4 separate regions of the Homo sapiens genome follow, and all the other regions are reported to be linked to region 3. The links are microRNA targets in miRTarBase. Many come from high-throughput screens and were not tested one by one. Region 3 holds a microRNA gene; each other region holds the end of a gene's coding sequence.

Evidence for each region. The annotated mature microRNA hsa-miR-6729-3p reads UCAUCCCCCUCGCCCUCUCAG and lies in region 3 at 4,048-4,068, shown strand. An mRNA with a match to its seed (bases 2 to 7 or 8) in the 3' UTR can be bound and repressed. Matches are read on the target gene's strand: a 7mer-m8 pairs with bases 2 to 8, a 7mer-A1 pairs with bases 2 to 7 and ends in A, and an 8mer does both.
Region 1: miRTarBase lists ANKMY1 as a target of hsa-miR-6729-3p. The part of its 3' UTR that is shown has no 7-base or 8-base seed match.
Region 2: miRTarBase lists TBCK as a target of hsa-miR-6729-3p. Seed matches in the 3' UTR shown: 7mer-m8 at 931-937 and 8mer at 1,289-1,296.
Region 4: miRTarBase lists ATP13A4 as a target of hsa-miR-6729-3p. Seed matches in the 3' UTR shown: 7mer-m8 at 4,408-4,414.

Annotation. Positions count from the first base shown.
Region 1 is chr2:240,476,139-240,480,138 of GRCh38, forward strand. ANKMY1 (ankyrin repeat and MYND domain containing 1) reads right to left here. Exons shown (of 18, transcript NM_001282771.3): 18 at 3,284-3,517. The coding sequence ends at 3,471. Among named protein-coding and RNA genes, the nearest start is that of GPC1-AS1, 21 kb to the left of the region's middle. RefSeq lists enhancers at 2,058-2,567, 2,568-3,077, 3,078-3,587.
Region 2 is chr4:106,043,006-106,047,005 of GRCh38, reverse strand. It overlaps TBCK (TBC1 domain containing kinase), which reads left to right. Exons shown (of 26, transcript NM_001163435.3): 26 at 326-4,000. The coding sequence ends at 436. Among named protein-coding and RNA genes, the nearest start is that of NPNT, 150 kb to the right of the region's middle.
Region 3 is chr1:12,025,155-12,031,388 of GRCh38, forward strand. MIR6729 (microRNA 6729) reads left to right here and starts at 4,004; the gene lies at 4,004-4,068. MIIP (migration and invasion inhibitory protein) reads left to right here. Exons shown (of 10, transcript NM_021933.4): 5 at 3,879-3,987; 6 at 4,069-4,127; 7 at 4,611-4,740; 8 at 4,874-4,970; 9 at 6,112-6,234.
Region 4 is chr3:193,398,251-193,404,484 of GRCh38, reverse strand. It overlaps ATP13A4 (ATPase 13A4), which reads left to right. Exons shown (of 30, transcript NM_032279.4): 30 at 1,621-5,518. The coding sequence ends at 1,833. Among named protein-coding and RNA genes, the nearest start is that of ATP13A5, 23 kb to the right of the region's middle.

The DNA.
Region 1 (4,000 bases), not on the chromosome of region 3:
TCATAAAAACAGATACAATGAAACAGAATATAGAGTCCAGAAATAAACTCACACATATGCAGCCAACTAATCTTTGACAAGGGGACCAAGAATATACAATAGCAAAAGGAGCCTCTTTAGCAAATGGCGCTTGGAAAGTCGGATATGTACATGCAGAAGAGAGAAATTGGACCCTTATCTTACACCATATACCCTTATCTTACACCATATACCAAGTGACCACAGTATCATCTCACAAGCCAGAAAACTCTGCTCAAAAGATGCCAACTGTCTGCCAATCAAATGAAACAAGATAATTGCTAAGTCCCAACGAGACATTTTAGAACTTGACACACACTGCACAATTCATCTGGAAGAAAAAGCACATGGTCACCGCAGGGCCTTTCACAGGGCCGGTGAAGAGGAGGGTGGGCCTGTCCTGGCAGATGTGAAAAGGCCACAGAGCTGCAGGTGGAGACAGCAGAGCACAGAAGGGGCCCCTACGGCAACTAAGAGGCAGGCATATGCCCACCAGGGAAAAGAAATGGATTACTCGATCACGCCCATTGTTTGGGGATAGATCTAGATAGCTGGCTCTCAAACCTTACACAAAAATTAATGCTAGATTGGTTATACAATTACAGGTTAAGCAGTAATTCATTAAAACGGTGGTGAGAATCTGGGCAAAGGCTACCCTTGCATACATAAGCCCAGCAAGGGACTGCTCTCTACGCACTCCAGCAAGCCAGGCCCTGAGGAAAGGACACGTGGATTTCACAACACGAGAAAAACTTCCACGTGCAAACTGCAAACTGCAAGACAGTTATTTGCACACAAGGCATAGGAGAAGTTGCTGTGCTTTAGAGAGTTCCCATCCATCAGGAAGAGCAAACATCTCCAATGAAAAGGGACCAGTGGAGGCCGGGCGCAGTGGCTCACGCCTGTAATCCCAGCACTTTGGGAGGCTGAGGTGGGTGGATCACGAGGTCAGGAGTTTGAGACCAGCCTGCCCAACGTGGAGAAACCCCATCTCTACTAAAAATACAAAATTAGCTGGGCGTGGTGGCGCATGCCTATGATCCCAGCTACTTAGGAGGCTGAGGCAGGAGAATCGCTTGAACCCAGGAGGCAGAGGTTGCAGTGAGCCAAGACCCTGCCATTGCACTCCAGCCTGGGTAACAAGAGAGAAACTCTGTCTCAAAAAAAATAATAAAAATAAAGAATATGTTCCCCAAAATGCTCAGAATGCTTATCCCTGAATTTTAAGATTAAGATGATTTTCTCATTTTTAAAAATTAGTTGTTAGCATCTTTCTCTCATCCAGGCCAGAGCACAGTGGTGCCATCACAGCTCACTGTAGCCTCACACTCCTAGTTCAAGCAATCCTCCCACCACAGCCTCCTGAGTAGCTGGGACTACGGTGTGTGCGACCACACCTGACTAAGATCTTTTTTTTAGAGACAGGGTCTATGTTGCCCAGGCTGGTCTGGAACTCCGGGGCTCAAGCAATCCGCCTGCCTCGGCCTCCCAAGTCACTGGGATCACAGGTATATGCCACCTCCCCCAGTTATTTTTATCACTCTTGTCTTTGCTGTCTTCTTTCTTAAATAAGCGTATATTGCATATATAATAAAAAATAAAGCTATATTCATTTGGGGAAATTATGTTGCAGAAAAATATTTAATAACATAGATGTTCATGGCCTAGTTCAGAACAGAGAGGATGCTCCCACTTTTAGATACACGTCTGTCTGTGTGCACTCATGCCTGTAGAGATCAGAAGGACACACACAAAGCGTTGGCCATGGTAATATCCAGGTGTCTGTGATACGCTTTGGATCTATGTCTCTGCCCAAATCTCATGTTAAATTGTAATCCCCAATGTGGGAGGTGATTGGATCCCGGGGGCAGACTTCCCCATCTGGTGCAGTTCTCGTGGTCATAGAATTCTCACGAGATCTGGCTGTTTTGAAAAGTGTGTGGCAGCCCCTCCCCTTCCTCCCGCTCCAGCCATGCGAAGTGCCGGCTTCCCCTTCTCCTTCCGCCATGATTGAAGCTGAGCACATGCCGCCATGTTTCCTGTGCAGCCTGCAGAACCCTGAGCCAATTAAACCTCCTTTCTTTATACATTTTCCGGTCTCTGATATGTACGTGTAGCAGTGCGAGAATGGACTAATACAGTGCGGATAATTGTCACTTACAGGTTCTTTCTTTTGCTTTGTAGATATTCTCTAACTTTTATAGAATTAAGTGTACCATCAAATAAGTATCCATTAGCAGCTTTTTCCTTTCTAGCAGAGGTAGTGGAAGCCGGGGGTGCCTACACCCACCCAGCATCCCAGACCCCCCTGAGCAGGAACAGCTCTTGGCGGCAGGGAGCCAGCTCACACAGTTACGACCCTCCCAGGGGCAGCCTGTGGCTGGTGACCAGCCGATGCAGGGGTACAAAGGCCTGGTCCCTGCGTCCGTTGGGAGCCCCTATGAAGAGCCACCCAGCGGTCAGCTTGTCCCTCTGCCCAGGCTCACTGCTGACCCCTTACAGAAGCCTTTCCCAGGGCACCCCCAACAAACCCCCAGCATGGAGCCCATCTTTGGCGAGACCAGGAAAGTCAGTAAAAAAAAAAAATCACTGCAGGTGCAGCTGCTTTGACAGCCACAAGCCAGCCTGGAGCGGGGTCTCACCTGCTTGGCTCCAGCCCCGACACAGGCTCCCACCCCCCACACTCCCAGCTATTCTGCCCTCAGCAGCAAACCCCCATCGTCCTCATCCCTGGACGCTGTCCCCTTGTCTCCGGGGATGCTGTCGTCCTTCTCCAGGTCCGCCCCTCACTGCGCATCTTCCCCTGCCCTCTCCGTGAATTTCCACGCAGGCCACCCTCGAAGGCAACACTGCTCCCTGTCATGTGCTCCAGGCCCTCCTTCCTCTCATTCCCAGTGATTTCCACAAACACCATCGTCCCCAGAACACTCAGCACACAGCAGACACTCCGTAAGTGCACGGGGAACAAACGAGCACCGCAAACCCCAGTAGGAGCCTTGCACCCATGGGCACCTGAGCAGGGAGTGGAGCCTGCTGCCGCGGGCTCCTGGCAAGGTCCCAGAACAAGCTCCAGAGACCCAGGAGCTGCCCCCACCGCCATCTCTGCAGCAGGCTCCGAGTCCTGACCCTCACCTGCCTCGTCCATCAGGATGGCCCAGGCCATGCCCCATGGGAGGCCAAGCAAGATCAAAGCCAGGGGCAGAGGCAGGCACGGGCTCCACAAAAGCTCTGGGACTTTGCCCAGCTAGGGGCAGAGCACAGCACAGACTGTCAAAATCACCCCGTGGGGCCAATTTATTGCGAGGTCGCAAGGGAGACACTGCTACAAAGCATGACCCCAAAGGTGCAGAAATGCCTGCATTAGGCTGGAAGATTCCCTGAGGTGGCTCAGGCAGGTAAGAAACCCACACAGTCCTGGGTCCTCCCCAAGCCTCGGACGTGCAGCTGCTGCTTCACTGGAATTCTTCTCTCCTCCTGGAAACTTGCTCCAGTTGTGTCACTGGAGGAGGAAAAGGTGTGGGGGAGGGGGAAGAGGGGGCTGGAGCTGGCCTCCCCCGAGGCCTGGCTCCAGAACTCGGGCTGTGTGGGGCGGCTGAGGACTGTGCTCTGTCTAGAGCTTTTGCAGGCAAGGAGTCGGGATGCAGCAAGGACTGAGGGCTATCTGCCGTGACTCTTCAAAGAGGGGCCTGCCACACCCACCAAGTCCCATCCTGGAGTCTACAAGCCAAGGAGCTGCGACCTCACCGAGGGCGCCTGTTATTAAAAGCCCCATTGGCTGCGCGCGGTGGCTCATGCCTGTAATCCCAGCACTTTGGGAGGCCGAGGTGGGTGGATCACCAGATCAGGAGATCGAGACCATCCTGGCTAACACGGTGAAACCACGTCTCTACTAAAAATACAAAAAATTAGCCTGTAATCCCAGCTACTCGGGAGGCTGAGGCAGGAGAATCACTGGAACCGGGGAGGCGGAGGTTGCAGTGAG
Region 2 (4,000 bases), not on the chromosome of region 3:
AACAGAAGTGGAATGAGTTTACTTCTCATTGTATACCCTTTACTACTGAATTTGAATTGTTTACCATGTATATTTATCACATATTCAAAAAAATCATAAAAGAGAACTGAAGAGACATTTATTCCATAAGATAAAGAAATTGTCAGCGTCAGCATATAAAAGAGTGATTTAATTTATATTAATAACCAAGTTGACAACTTATTATACAGTGGTGGCAGCAATCATAACATTAAATTAATTTTGTCTTTCAAATTCTGAGAAAAAACATGAGGTTGGAGATGTCTTCTGTATATCCTCTAAAAATTTTGCCTCTTTTTTTTTCCAGTTTGCAGCTCACCTTGTGAAGATGAAATATCCAAGAATCTGTATTCTAGATGGTGGCATTAATAAAATAAAGCCAACAGGCCTCCTCACCATCCCATCTCCTCAAATATGAAGAACCAAGAGTGTGACTGCCAAAACTTAGTGTGGCATCAGCACCAACAGCACAGTTCTTCATATCCACGCCACTCTCAGACAAAACTAGATGTCCAGATTGTTGCATTTCCGTAAAGTTTGTCACGAGACATTTTTTAAAATCTCATAACCCACATGTTCAGTTATCCATGCAAGAAACTTGACTCTACATGTATTGCTGAAAGAATTTTCTTAACAGTGAAATCTGATCATATATTTTTACCACACTGCCACATAAAGCCCAAGAAATTCAGCTGACAAGACAGATTTAGCATTATCAAGAAATCCCATTTGCCCTGAAAAAGCTGTCCTCCATTGTACTGAACAGACAGTCCTGTCGATTGTGTTATTTAGAAACATACACTGAATGTGGGCTGAAATCATCATCTTTCCATAATGAAAACTGAGAAACTATTCACAATGCATTCCTTATAAATAAATGCTACATTTAGTAACTCATTTCACCCAAACAAGGGGGATGTGTGTGTGTGTGTGTGTATAGGAAGTGGAGTTTATCCCATTGCAGAAAGTGGTAATACTTACTCCCAGAAAAATGAAATTTAGAAACCATTTATATTTGATAGAATATTTGGTCAGTTCCTGTAGCAAAGACGAATGGCTTAAACAAATTTTCTAGTTTCTTTATCACATGAAAGTCTGTACAGTCAGTCCAGGGCTAGTCTACTGGTTTCCTGATCATTAAGAACTCATTACCTTCTCTCATTGCTTTACAAACCTCAATATGTGGCATCCATCTCATGGATGAAAATGGCTCCTCAGCTTCTACCATCACATCTGCTATCTAGAAGGAAGAGAATGAGGGAAGGAGGGAGGGGATGAAGAGAAAAGAAGGAACAAAAGAAGGAGGGAGGAAAGAAGAAAAGAAAGGAAAAGAAGCGAAGCACACTCCTTCCCTTTAAGGTCATAAACCAGAAGTTGCGCACACTACCTCTGCTTACATATCATTGGCCAGAACTTGGGTGCATGGCCACACCTAGCTTTAAGGAAAACTGGAAATAGAGTCTTTGGGTGGTTGATCATTTCCCCAGCTAAAAACATTCTTATTACTGTGTGGGAAGAAGAGAGTACATATTGAGGTACAGCTAACAACCTCTGCCTCTGCCACATTGTTTTTAAAATGAGTATTATATTTCATTAAATCTAAGACATCTCACAATTTTAGGTACCACAAAGAAAAAATGAAGCCAAATGAATTGTGACACTTTGTCAATTAAAAGACACATTCCCTGGGAGGCCGAGGTCAGGAGTTTGAGACCAGCCTGGCCAACATGGGGAAACTTTGTCTCTACTAAAAATATAAAAATTAGCTGGTCATAGTGGCACACGTCTGCGGTCCCAGCTACTCAGGAGGCTGAGGCAGGAGAATCACTTGAACCTGAGAGGCAGAGGTTGCAATGAGCCATGATAGGGCCACTGTACCCCAGCCTGGGCAACAGGGCTCACCCTGCCATCTCAAAAAAAAAAAAAAAAAGAAAGATACATTCCCATTTCAGAAATCTGAAAAAAAAAATGCCTCATATATATGAAATATAGCATATCCTTTAATTATCTTCAATTTTGTTTTAACTAAAAAGTGTTCATTCATCTATAACTTACATTCCACTCCAATGTTAAGACTGCCTAGGCAGAACATTTCAATAAGAGCCTCAATTCAGCTTTCTGGGCCATGGTTTTGTTGTTGCTGCTATTGTTTACTTTATTTTATTTTTTCTTTGCATCTACTTTTTAAATTGAGATATACTTAACCATAAAATTCATCCTTTTAACATGTACAGTTCAGTAGTTTTTAGTGTATTCACAAAGTTGTGCAATCAGTATTATCCAGAATACTTTCATTGTATGCAATTGTCTACCTGATCAGCAGGTATTCCACATTAACCCCTCCTAAGGTCTTTGATAAATTTTTGTATATGGAGTGAGGGGTCCAGGTTCATTCTTGCATATGAGTATCCAGTTGTCCCAGGACCCCTCCTGTTTTGTTTGTTTTATTCAATTTATTTGGTCATTCACCAAATATGTTTTGAATACCTACTATGTATTTCTAAGACACTAATATAATCCATAGTTATATCATTTGTGATCCTTACCTAGTTTACAAGGAAAAAAATGTGAGAATTAATGAGAACAAATATATACCAAGATTTCACTAACATTGTTTTTGGGCCATTGTCTACCCTCTTCAGAGAAATATTAAATCCTCCTGTCCTGGCAATTACTATTTTCTTCCTTCAGTCTTTGATGACTTACCTGAGTTCATAATCAGAATGCACCATTGATGATCATTCTGAGTCTTAACTCTGCCTTACTGAGAAAGCAGAGAAGAGAGGGATGGAGGGGCAGTGATTTGAGTTGAATAAGGTGGTAGGTAGTAGGAGAGGATGAAGACCTTGTGAAGAGAGCTATGTAAGAAGATAATAGTAGCAACCCTCTGTCATGATTTTGCATTTGATCTTTCTTAAAACGACACATTTAGGCTTATTCCAAGAAATTGAAGTTTTTTAAACATGAAAATTATAATATTTAATATTCTCAACAGTAAAGTAAGAGCACACTATCACTGCCATGTTTATACACAGGGCATGTTATTTCATGGTGGATGATACGAACAGTTGACCTCAACAACTATTTGTTAGATTAAACGTATATAACCCAGGATTTATTTGAGTTCCTTTTTAATGTATTATTGATTCCTACACGATGACTATCAGCACTGTTTCTGGCTTTACCTGGAATGCCATAAGTACCACCACCAGCCCACACAGATATACATACACACACACACACACACACACTCACATTCATAAACACACTTATTAACTCTTGATAATCTAGCAACAACAGTGTACCTCCTCCAGTCTTCTCTGGCTTCCCCATGCTGCACTAAGAGCCCCAAATCTACTAAAGCATTCCATTCATAATTTACTAATAATAGATTTATTACATCATTTTGCAATCGTTTGTTTACATTTAGTCCCCTATTAAAATATGAGCTGCTTAAGATCAGGAGCTATAATTTATACCTCTTGCTACCTTCAGCAACCCACCACATTGGATATGCTCAATTAATATAAAATTGAATCTATCAATTTTAGAATCTATTTGAAGGGAGAAAAATAAAAATAACCTGTGGTAATTTTTTTCAACTGCCAAACTTATCTGGTACCTGATAGTATAGAAATAAATTGAAATCTCAATTCATGGAGTGAAAAAAGGATCTCTAAAGTCCCATCCAGCTCTAAAATCTGATAATTCTAGAAGTTGGAGCAGATAACTTCCAAAATAAGGTAATTTAATCTAGTTGCATCCTCTTTTCAAAATACAGAAATGTTAGATTCAAAAAGCATATTAAAAATAACTAATGCTTAACCAAGTTTGAAAGAAAGAAGTTTTTTGATGTCAGAAATGAAAAGGACCTGAAAGGCACAGCTTTTAGGCCCGTGGGATACCCAGTATCAATATAAGCCCCAAGAACTCAGGTTTTGGAATACATATAGGAATAGAAGACATAGCTTTGGATCTTATG
Region 3 (6,234 bases):
GTTCGAGTGGTTCTTGTGCCTCAGCCTCCCGAGTAGCAGGTATTACAGGTGTGCGCCACCACACCCAGCTAATTTTTGCATTTTTAGTAGAGATGGGGTTTCACTGTGTTGGCCAGGCTGGTCTCGAACTCCTGCACTCAAGTGATTCTCCTGCCTCGGCCTCCCAAAGTGCTGGGATTACAGGTGTGAGCCGCTGTGCCTGGCTGGAATTCCCTTCCTTTTTAAGGCTGAGTGACATTCTGTTGTGTGTAGATGCCACATGTTGTTTATCTGTTCATTCAGGGATGGACACTTGGGTGCTTTCCATCTCTTGACTGTTGGGAATAATGCTGCTGGTGACATGGTTGTGCACTGTCACTTTTGACATAGCAGCCAGAGGGAATTTTTAAACATGGGAATCAGATCATGTCACTCCCCTACTCAAACCTCCCCATGGGCTTTTCCCAGCACTTACTGTAAAATCCAAAATCCCTATCTAGACTTACGAGGCATGATCTGGCCTCTACTGGCCCCATGATGTGACCTCCCGTCTTTCTTCCAGCCTCGCGGCCTCCTCCTTTTTTATTTTTATTTGTTTTCTCTGTTGCCCAGAGTCAAGTCCAGTGGTGTTATTTCTGCTCATTGCAACCTCCGCTTCCTTGGTTCAAGCAATTCTTCCTCAGCCTCCCAGGTAGCTGGGATTACAGACGTCCACTACCATGCTTGGCTTATTTTTGTATTTTTAGTAGAGACGGGGTTTCACCATGTTGGCCAGGCTGGTCTCGAACTCCTGACCTCAGGTGATCTGCCCGCCTTGGCCTCCCAAAGTGCTGGGATTACACACATAATGGGGTGGCCACAGGCATGGCAGGACCAGAAAGGAGGCCACGACCAGGCATGGTGGCTCACGCCTGTAATCCCAGCAATTTGGGAGGCCGAGGTGGGCGAATCACTTGAGGTCAGGAGTTCGAGACCAGCCTGAGCATCGTGGTGAAACTCTGTCTCTACTAAAAATACAAAAATTAGCCAGGTGTGGTGGCGGGCACCTATAATCCCAGCTACTCAGGACGCTGAGGCAGGAGAATCATTTGAATCCAGGAAGTGGAGGCTGCAGTGAGCAGAGATCAAGCCACTGCACTCTAACCCGGGCGACAAAGTGAGATTCTGTCTCAAAAAACAAAGACAGGTGTACTGTGGAGTTGCTGAGAGCAACTGGTGGCGGGGACACAGGCCCTGCCCTTGAGTACTTCTTGAACTCTCAGCTCACTGCCCTCCTTCCTGGTTCTGGGAAAATGGAAGCGCCTGTCCCAGTACCTGCTCTTGGTCCATGCGCTCTGCTCCCCTGCCTTTGCCGAGGTGACTGTCCATGCTGCCACCTGGACCCTGGCCCTGCTCCAGCGTGCTCCGCCCCTCTGCTTCTGGCTCCTCCAGGGTTTCCTTCCTGTGATCCTCTCCCTCTCTGTCCTGCATCCTCATCCTGCCCCTTAGCATGAGCATGAACGTGCAGGAAGCATTCTGGGAGCTGGTTGTATCTCATGCTCCCTGCACCAGGCACCGCTCCGAGCTGTGCTTCCTGTTCCTCCCGCTGACTCCTTTGCCCTTCATGATAAGCTTATTAGGTAGGCACCACCATGGTGCCCATTCACAGATGGGAAGGCTGAGGCCCGGTGAGACAGAATCTTACCAGCAGCTCACATCCAGTCGGGGTAAAGCCGCTGTCTGTTATTTCTCATCCCGATGCCACATTCCTACCTTTAGCCCACATTTGCTTCCAGTGACTGCCTGTTTTCTCGATAACAAAACTTCCTCTTCAAAAGGGCTGTCTAGCCTCGTTGCCTTCAATTTCTCTCCACTACTATTCCTTTTCTTTTTCTTTTTTTTTTTTTTTTTGAGATGGAGTCTCGTTCTTTCACCCAGGCTGGAGTGCAGTGGAGCAGTGATCTCAGCTCACTGCAACCTCCGCCTCCCAGGTTCAAGTGATTCTCCTGTCTCAGCCACCTAAGTAGCTGGGATTACAGGCATGCACCACTACACTCAGCTCATTTTTGTATTTTTAGCCAGAGACAGGGTTTCGCCATCTTGGCCAGTCTGGTCTGGAACTCCCGATGTCAAGTGATCTGCCCGCCTTGGCCTCCCAAAGTGCTGGGATTATAGGCATGAGCCACTGTGTCCAGCCTCCACTACTATTTCTTAAATCGGGCTTCAGCTCCCAGCATTTCATCAACATGGCCCTCAGTTGGGTCATCAGTGGCCTCCGTGGTGCCAACTCCCCAGCTTAGCCCTCATCCACATCTTCCTTTGAGTAGCAGGGGACACAGTGGTCACTCCTGAAGCACTTTCTCCCCTGGACTTCCAGCCACTTGCTTCCCGGTTCTCCCCCATCTCTGTTGGTGCTCCTTCCCAGGCTTCTGGGGAAGGAAAGGTCCTTGTTCTGACTGCTACACCCCTAGGCCTGGGACTCGGTCTTCTGACTCCTCCTCTCTATCTTCCCTCTATGATCTCCCAAACGCTGAGGTGTTTGGACACTTTCTCTACTTCTCCATTTGTATCTCTAGCCCGCACCTCTCCTCCGAATTCCAGACTTGTATATCCCACTGTCTTCTCCACATCACCATGAAGTTATTAACCTTCTGTCCGAAATCAAGGTCCTGATTTCCACTGCTGTGCTCCTCCTGCAGTCTTTCCTGTCTCCATAAATGGCAACTCCAAATACTAAATAGGTCAGGCCATAAACTTGCTGGATTTACCATCCAGCTACATCCTGATACACCCAACATAAGTTGAAAATACTGTTTAGGCCGGGTGCGGTGGCTCACGCCTGTAATCCCAGCACTTTGGGAGGCCGAGGCAGGTGGATCAGGCCAGGAGTTTGAGAACAGCCTGGCCAAGATGGTGAAACCCCGTCTCTACTAAAAATACAAAAATTAGCTGGGTGTGGTGGCGCACGCCTGTAATTCCAGCTCTGTAGGTGGCTGAGACATGAGAATCGCTTGAACCTGGGAGGCAGAGGTTGCAGTGAGCCGAGGTCGCTCCACTGCACTGCACCCTGGGCAACACGGTGAGATTCTGTCTCAAAAAATAAAAAAAGAAACATCCTAAGTCGAATCATGGTAAGTTGGGGGCTGCCCCTACCTCTCCCCAGCTGAATCCTAACCGATGCCTCTGCTTCCCCTCAACTTGAAGCAGCCAGAGGAGGAGTTCTGTAAAAATATGTGGCTGATGTGGTTGTGTCCCTCCCATTCCCCAGACCCTCCCTGGGCTTCTTAACCTCATCTCCTCCACCCTCGCTGCCTTCCTGCCACTTTCCCCTCCTGGCTGTTCCTCAGCTGAACCATGCACATGCCCACCCCGGGGCCTTTGCGCTTGCTCTTTCATCTCCCTGCGATGTCCTTCCTGGGAGGTCTCTGTGGCTTCTCCATGTCTCTGCTCAGGGTCATCTCACTCGGAGAGGCCTTCCCTGGTATGGCTGCCCGGCCATACTAGGCTCTGACGCTGCTCTCTTGCTTTCTGGCAGGTATCAGCATTCAGTCTTGTATCACGGGTTTTTTTTTTTTTGGTGGCTAGTTCATCTCTTGCCACCTTACAGTGTAAGCCTCATTAAGGCCAGGGGCTTTGTCTGTCTAGTTCCTGGCACATGAAACAGCATCTAGCCCTGTCATAAGGGCTCTGTCGATATTTTTTCCATGGATGGTTGGCTATGCATCAGGGTAGACAGACACTGAAACCAACCAACAGTCCCAGTGACTGGAGGGGCCCTCCTGGCCTGTTTGAGGCACAGTAGGGATGAAGCAGGTGGCCTGGGGTGCCAGGGCTGATCGTCTCTCCAAGCCTTGGCCGGTGGCCACACAGCAGCCCCCAGCCCCTCTCCCGTCAGCTGCCTGGTGCTTTGCCCACACCAGGGTCTCTGGACACCAGCTCTTCCATCACCAGCCAGCCTGAGGCCTTCTTCTCCAAGCTGCAGGAGTTTCGGGAAACCAACAAGGAGGAGTGTATCTGCAGCCATCCTGAGTGAGCAGGGGCGGGCGAGGGTGGGCGAGGGCGGCTGAGCGGCTCCATCCCCCGGCCTGCTCATCCCCCTCGCCCTCTCAGACCCCAGTTGCCAGGCCTGCGTGAGAGCAGTGGCAGCGGCGTGGAGGAAGACCATGAATGTGAGTGCGGGCCCTCGGCTAGGCCGCTGAGTAGTCCAGCCTCGCGCTGCCCTGGCCTCCCCTGCCCCAGAGCAGTCCCATTTGAGGTTTGGGGCCTGGGGAGGCCCCTGAGATGTTGAGACTCATGGAGGGAGGCCTGCAGTCTGGACAGGGTGGCCAAGCCCTGGTAGGGGTGGAGTGAGCTAAGGCCTGGCCACCGAATTAGGGGCTGCCCTGTGTGGCACCATCCCACCCTCCCCAGCAGTGCCCCTGTGCTGGTGGGACTCCATCCCAGCTCCTGAGGGCCCCAGGAGGATGTCCCTCCCCACCCCTTAGGGCGTGGGCCCCAGGTTCTGGGAGGAAAGGGGTTAGGAGGAAATGGGCCGAAGGGCTTCCCAGAGGGATTGGCAGCTTGTGTGGTTGGGGGCCGCTGAGGGCAGCACGGAGCCTGGGGACCTGGGTTCCTGGCTCAGGGAGAGCTGTGGCTTCTCATGGGCCTCGCAGGCGTGTACTGTTACCGTGTCAACCGGCGCCTGTTCCCGGTGCCTGTGGATCCCGGTACCCCCTGCCGCCTGTGCAGGACACCGCGAGACCAGCAGGGCCCTGGGACCCTGGCGCAGCCAGCGCACGTCAGGTGAGTGACCAGAGTATTGGGACACCTTGGGGGACAGAGCCTGAACCACTGGTTTTAAGAAAAGATGGGCCTGGGCGTGGGCCCCCAACCGCTGGGAGGCTCCTCAGGGGTCCCCCACTGCCCCCCTGCGCAGGGTGAGCATCCCGCTGTCGATCCTGGAGCCCCCGCACCGGTACCACATCCACCGGCGAAAGAGCTTTGACGCCTCTGACACACTGGCCCTGCCCCGGGTGAGCAGCCACGTGGGGCTGGATGGTGATGAGGGCGGGGCTGGCTCAGACTGGCCCAGATCCCCAGGGAGGGTCACAGAGCGAGACTGGGCTCGACAAGGGTGAGCGCCCAAGTCTCTGGAGCACAGCCTGGGCCTCTTCCATCACCCACACCTGTACCTAAGGGAGGTAGGACCCCCGCTCCACGTACCCCGGTGCTTCCAGGGTGATCTGCCTGCAGGCTGGCATGACATGAATGGGTCCTGTTTATTGCGCTTTTGTGTACTGCAGGCACAGTCCTTAGGGGGCTTATCTCATGGAGCCCCCACAGCAGCCAGGAGTGTAGGCACTGCTGTACCCCCACCCTGCAGGTGGGGAGACCGAAGCAGAGGGGGAGGCGCCTTGGTGGAGGAGCTGGGATTCGAACCTAGGTCTCTGTGCTGCTGCTGCTGCTTTTTTTTTTTTTTTTTTTTTTTGAGACCGAGTTTTGTTCTTACTGCCCAGGCTGGAGTGCATTGGCATGGTCTCAGCTCACTGCAGCCTCCACTGTAGTCCCAGCTACTTGGGAGGCTGAGGTGGGAGGATCGCTTGAACCTGGGAGGCAGAGGCTGCAGTGAGCTGAGATCTCGCCACTGCACTGCAGCCTGGGTGACAGAGTGAGACTCCATCTCAAAAAAAAAAAAAATGTCCTTTCCTGTGTCTCCAGGTCGGGATGGGGTGCCAGTGGCAACTCCCCCTGACTCCTAAATTGAGAGTAGGGCAGCTGGGGTCAGAGGAGGAGAAGGATGCAGAGGAAAGTCAGTTTGCTGGTCCGTAAAATGGACATAACAGCGCCATCCTCAGGGATGTTGGTGGTGAGGTGGGGCTGTTGAGTGAAGCAATCCATGCAGGTGCTTGGAGAGCCTACAGCAGGAAGTACCCTGTGAATGTCACTGTCACCGTCCTATCCTCCTCCCATTTCAGCTCTCAGGGCCCCAGGGATGGCTGGATCTGCCAGGATAAGAAAGGGGAGAGCTGGGGTAGTCTTGTGGGTAGACACAGGCCCTGCCTTGGTGGGGGCCTCCTTCCTAATGGGGGGCACAGTTCCTCCCTGATGGGGGTGTGCCCAGTCAGCGGGGAGCTTGTCCCAGGTCAGGCACTTTTAACTCCTTGCCTTCCACAGCACTGCCTGCTGGGCTGGGACATTTTTCCTCCGAAGTCTGAGAAAAGCTCAGCCCCCAGGAACCTGGACCTCTGGTCCTCTGTCTCCGCTGAGGCCCAGCACCAGAAGCTGTCCGGCACCAGC
Region 4 (6,234 bases), not on the chromosome of region 3:
TTATATTTCAGCACGAGATTTGGATGGAAATACAAATTCAGATCATGTCACTAGTTCTGCCTTGTATTTATAATGTGCGGTAACAGGACAGATCACCTCTCTGTAGTTTCCTCTTCCAGAGCAGCAAGGTGATACAGGTCATCAGAGTCCAGAACTAAAAAACACTGAAGGCAAGATGTAGAGATGGAGAGCACCAAAGTTTCTCTCTCTGTGTGTGTGTGTGTGTGGTTTCATCTATTTTGTTTTAAGGTTTGCTAAGGTTTCCTTGAAGTAAGTAAGATTTTAAAACCTTTACTCGATGCTCCTGCCTTATCCCAGCTCTAAGAAGAACTACTGTTTTCACGTCAATTAAGGAGGACAAAAAAACCTTGCTGCAGGAAAGTAGAATAACTCATCTGGCTAAGTTTCCAAGAGGCTGAGACGGTTATATGGATCTTTAACAGCCCCGCAGCCAGCAGATGGTCAGTTATCACAGGAATAATGCAGACTGGCTGTTCTCTATCCTTTCATGGGCAGTGGAACCTAAATGGCAAAAATGGGTAGATTTTAGGAAAACTACTATATCTGGCAAAGTTCCTTATAGAATCTCACAGAATTAACTCTTTCAAATTAGCAAAGATAGACATGAAAATCAGTTCTAATTCTGTGGGACAGTTTCACGTCCCATATTTTTTCTTTGTTTCTTTCACAATAACCTCTAAGATGGTCAATCTTTGTGAGCAAACATGATAAAAGTGGAAAATTAATATGATAACCTCTCATGAATTATAAGTTATAACTTGGGCTCTATTCAAGGCTCACTCTAACTCATGAAATAAAATGGCATTGCAAAATGTTTTCAAAGAGACATGTCTTTTGTAATCTTAATACTGTATTTCAGTGAAGGTGAAGGTTAGAGGCATGTGTGAACAGGACCACAGTGCATAGCCATTTGTTAAATGAGTAGTTCCAAAGGGTAGGCAAAGGGAGAGAGCTATGCCCTGCCCTGCCCTGCATTGTAAAGGGAGTTATATAAGCCTTACAACAAACATAAGGAAGGGATTATTCTAATCACGGAGACATGGATAGAGTAACTAATTTGCCCATAATAGGTGTCAGAACTGGGACCTAAATCCAGATCTGTTCAACTCCAAGACTGGCCCGTGTGAAATTAAATATGCAGTGATATGTCAGGATATATCAAAAACATGTCATACATGGGCCACATCTTTATATAGGGTCAATTGTGTTTAGTATTTAGTAGTAATTTTAATGTCATTTTATATTAAACAAAATATAGATGTGCTATAGAGTGAAACATAGAATTTGAATGATTTTAAATTCAATTTAGATGTGAGATTCAAAAGAAACTTCATTTTTGAGGCAAGCCATTTCAAGTTATGTTCCCAGAGTCTTGAAATGTTGTACCTCTTACTTCTCCCACAGGAGTTACTTAAGTAGAAACGTTTGAGAAACCAATACCTGTCCAATGAAACCACCTTAGATTGGTCCAGTGGTCAAGCTCTTTGTCAAGCTGGATCTAAGCAACCATTGCAGTAGTGACTTATGATGGCCTGTGGAGGGCTGTAGCCTCAAAACACTCAACCCTTGCTTGTAAAAAGTAATTATTTTATTTTGCAGGAGGCTGTTATTGAAAATCGAGCCCTGTGGATGATGATTAAAAGATGTTTCGGCTATCAGTCAAAAAGCCAGTATCGGATATGGCAGAGGGACTTGGCAAATGACCCTAGTTGGCCCCCGCTAAACCAAACCTCCCACTCTGACATGCCGGAGTGTGGCAGAGGAGTGTCTTACAGCAATCCAGTATTTGAGAGCAATGAAGAACAACTCTGAAGGACATGTGATATCCAAGTTGATATTACAGAGAAACAATGACAAAAGGGACCAGTTTCATTGATTTTAAGAAATGAGACTCTTGTAACATCAGCTGGAGTTTTGGGGCTACCTATCAAATCATGGTGACAAACTAAAGTCTGTTTGATAAAATACTGTCTACAGAGAAGAACATTGACCCAGAAGAGTGCTTTCCTCTTGGCTTCTGAAGGTATTAGAGGCATTCAGTGAAGGCAAGAATGGGCCAAGAATTTCTATGGGCCAAGAGACAAGCAGGCTAAAGGGGAAAAATATGTGATCTTTCCTCTTAGGACAGGACAATACTTTCCTTTTTATAAAAATGAGTTGAGGGGAAGTAGTACTGTGTATACTCACGGAGTTGTAATTTTTGAATTTTTACTTCATCGATGGAAAAACTAATGCGTGGGAAACATTACACCAATCTTTACTGTCTGGGTTCCTTTTCTCTGTAGTACTTTTCAGATTTGAGGCTTTTTCTTCTGTTTCTGGCCTTACCCAACATATTGTTAAGGATAAGCTTAGCCTATGCTGCAATAAAAAACAACTCTCAGATATCAGTGCCTTAACACACAAGTGCTTCTTTCGTGATCCAGGTGACACTCTGGAACTGCCATTCTTACAGCAGTGACTGCTTCAACCTGATGGCTCCATCAGCTCGATGCAAGGACTGTGTGTTGACTGTGATGGGGGAAGGAATAGACTGGAGATCACGTGTGGGCTCTTCACTGCCTCACCCCAAAAGTGGCACACATTGCTTTCCCTACTCATATCTCATTAGTCAAGGATTTGGCCAGGGAGCTGGAAAGTGCAGTCTCCTGTGTTTAGGGATGCTTCATGGGCTTATGAGCTGTCACTACACAGGGCCCCATGCTTAGAAGGTCCCCACACTTGGCTTTAACACTCTGCTGTTTCCATCTTAAAATTCTTAATTTTTGAACAGGGGTCCCCATATTTTCATTTTGTACCAGGCCCCACAAATGATAGAGTTGGTCTGGAACGTAGTCCTGGGAAGGAGAGGAAAATAACAGATCAGAAAGCACGAGTGCTGTCCACTACAGCCCACTTTTCCTAACCCCAGTAACTTATCCTATGTTTTAGGAATCTCTCATGTCACATGGCCAACTCCAGAAATTTTCACTCCTCTGCTTTATTATTTTTGAGAAACATTAGTCTCATGCTACAGCATTATATGGCACTATTGATGGGAGTTCTTACACAACTAGTACATTTTTTTTTTAAAGTTTGTGGCTTGAGTTTCCAGAAAACTAAAATTGTCCTTATTTTGTCACTATTACAATTTGGTTATATTTGATTTGTTCAGCACAAGGAAGACTCAGGTTTCTGTTACCTCAGGAGACAACACTGAACTCTAGGAGCACACCTACATATAATATTTTAAGGCAAAAGCAAAATTTGTATTATGAGCATCAAATCCTAGGTGAATGTTCTGATCAGGGGATAAGTGTCCTGGCCCAGGCTGGCTTTGGAACTTATCAATAGCATTTGCAAGCATTCCTTCCCCCTAACTGAGCTCTTGAGCATGGCTGATGGCTCTATGATTGCAGCTGATTCTAGGAACATGGTGTCTCCCAGCCATGAGGGTACCCTGTTACTTCTGGTTTTAAAATAGGGCGTGAAGATATTTTAGTGTTTCAAGACTGCAGAATCACTGTCTTTTTTGGTACAGAAAGAAATGTTTCCTTTTGCAAAGCCAGCCTCAGCAATGATATGGCAGTTCTGAATGTCCTTCTCTAAAAGTGTTTCTCATTTTCCAAAAGTAGAGGGTTGTAGGCAGGGGCAAGCTAGAGATGGTCTGTGACCTAGTCATGAGCAAGATCAGCCTGCACAGTTCATACTTAAATGTGCCCTTTGCTAAGTGCATTCACCTCCACTAACTCACCTGAATGGTACCAATTGTCCCATGACTGAACAAGGAAGGGCTTATCATCTCCACCATACAGATGAGAAAGCTGAGATTCAGTAATGGCAAGAGCAGATCTAGGCCTCAAATACAGATCTTCTGAGCAAACCTTATATTGCTGCCAAATACTTCCAAATTCCAGAGTTCCAGCAGGGCAGGTTGCTTAGTGTGATCTCACAGTCAAGCAAAGAATGGGCAACCCTTTGCTAATACCAGGCCCTCTGTTCAAATGAATGCCAGGCATCCTGCCAGGCCTGGGCTAGAGGTGTATTAAAAACAAAACAAAACAAAACAAAAAAATGATTGTCTGTCTTTCTGAGACTTTGAGTTGCTCTTGCCTTGATCCTAAGTGATTCTATCACTAGCAAAGGCTGGCAGGGAACAGGAAGAAAAGAATCTAGTCCTCCACTAGTCAAGCAGCCATAAAATCTTTGGGAAAAGAGACTCATTTTGAAGACTGTATTCCTGGGATTAACTACATCTTAGAAGCAGTAATTGAAGGAACAGGGAGTGCCCAGCCTGGAAAGAAAACAGTCAGGGGACTGTGAAGGGTTTTCCTGAGAAAGAAGGATCCTACTTGTGCCAGGTGGCATGAGAAGGCAAAATCAGGACAAATGGGTAAAGATCACAGTGGGGATGGCTTCAGGCCATCTGCCCTAACCACTGTCCTAACAGCCAGCACTGATAGCAGTGGAATGTACTCTAGGACATTGGAGGAACAAGTGGCTATTCAAGGGCCAAGTAGAGAAGGAAGTCAAGTATCAGATGAAACTCAATTACCTGCAAGATCTCTTTCAAGCTTGATACACCCAGTGTCTCAGTCTTATGCTGTGATGTGAACCTTTTTTTTTTTTTTTTTTTTTTGAGATGGAGTCTCACTCTGTTGCCCAGGCTAGAGTGCAGTGGCACAATCTCGGCTCACTGCCAGCTCCGCCTCCCGGATTCACACCATTCTCCTGCCTCAGCCTCCCAAGTAGCTGGGACTACAGGTCTGCCACCATGCCCGGCTAATTTTTTGTATTTTTAGTAGAGATGGGGTTTCATCATGTTAGCCAGGGTGGTTTCAATCTCCTGACCTCGTGATCCGCCCGCCTCGGCCTCCCAAAGTGCCGGGATTACAGACATGAGCCACCAGATGTGAACTATTTTCTACTACTACCCACACAGAATACCAGACAGACACTCATGGGAGGATGGGCTCTGGAGGGAGGGCTCCCAGCCTTGTCAGATCCGATTGTGTGGACATATAGACTCAATTGCCCTGTACCTTGAAAGGGGACCCCTAATGGAGATAAGATCCTAGGAAAGAGGGGCAGAGTAGGGGTCCTGATTGTCAGATTGAAGCTGGGGTAATACTTCTGATTTGTGAATTTTCTTAAAGAGAGGTGTTAAAAAACTTTGCATGAAAGAGCGTGGGAGAGTGCCCTAAACTTGAGGGCGGAGCAACCTGTTATCAATACACTTTCTTGAGCAGAGTCTGAAGGAGAAACGAACACAGTCACATAGTCCAAATCATTTGAGACGGTGCCCTGTATGTTCATCTCAAGGCATCTAGCTCTTACCCACAGAGAACCGTGACTCTGGGCTTCCCTCACTAAATATGTCTGTGACATCTGTATCCTTATGTGCTTATGGAAATGTTCACATACACACCTGCAGATGTGATGACTGAAAAAAACGATTATTTATTCAGAGCTTTGTATTTAGTTTATGCTATAATAAATTCAGTTGTTATAAAAATCAGTCTCTCTCTCTGCGGTGGAGTCTTTCATTCTGTCTAATGGTGTGGTTTACTCCAGTAATGTTGAATCAAACAACATCTTTACAAAGTTCCAGGCATTTTCTAACACCACAGATGCTATTATTCTCTGCTTTATACACAGGGCATTAGAGTTTACAAAATACTTTCATCCTTGTTCTCTCATTTAAGCCTCGTTAACAACCTTAGGAGGAAAGAAAGGCAAGGATTACTGTCTCTCTTCTTTTGATGAGGTACAAGGCTCTCCAGATGTCTCAGCAACCAGGACACATGGCCCATGGATGGAGGAGCTGGATTCAGATGCAGGTCCTTTATCAGCGAGATCCCTGCTGTGTCACTCTCCTATGTTGTTTTTCCTGAATGAAAAAAGAAGAGAAAAACCGTAGCATTGAAAAACAAGACGACAGCGAGGCAAATGTCCAATGTAATTGCCATAATGAGCACAGTTTCTTCCAGAAAGAGATTTTGGTGTTTCATGGAAGTTCTCTTGAACCTGACCATCAATCACAGAAAAGGCCAACTCCCACAGCTGAGGGAGGAAAATCATAACACCAGAGCCCTGTGAGCCCATTTCATGTGATTGGATAAAGCTCTGGTTTCTGACTTCAGTCTCCAGAAACAGAAAACTATATCCCTGCTTGATCTTTATTCAGACTTGCTTGGCACAGCTTTTCAGGTTCCTATAGATTTTCTTTTGGCT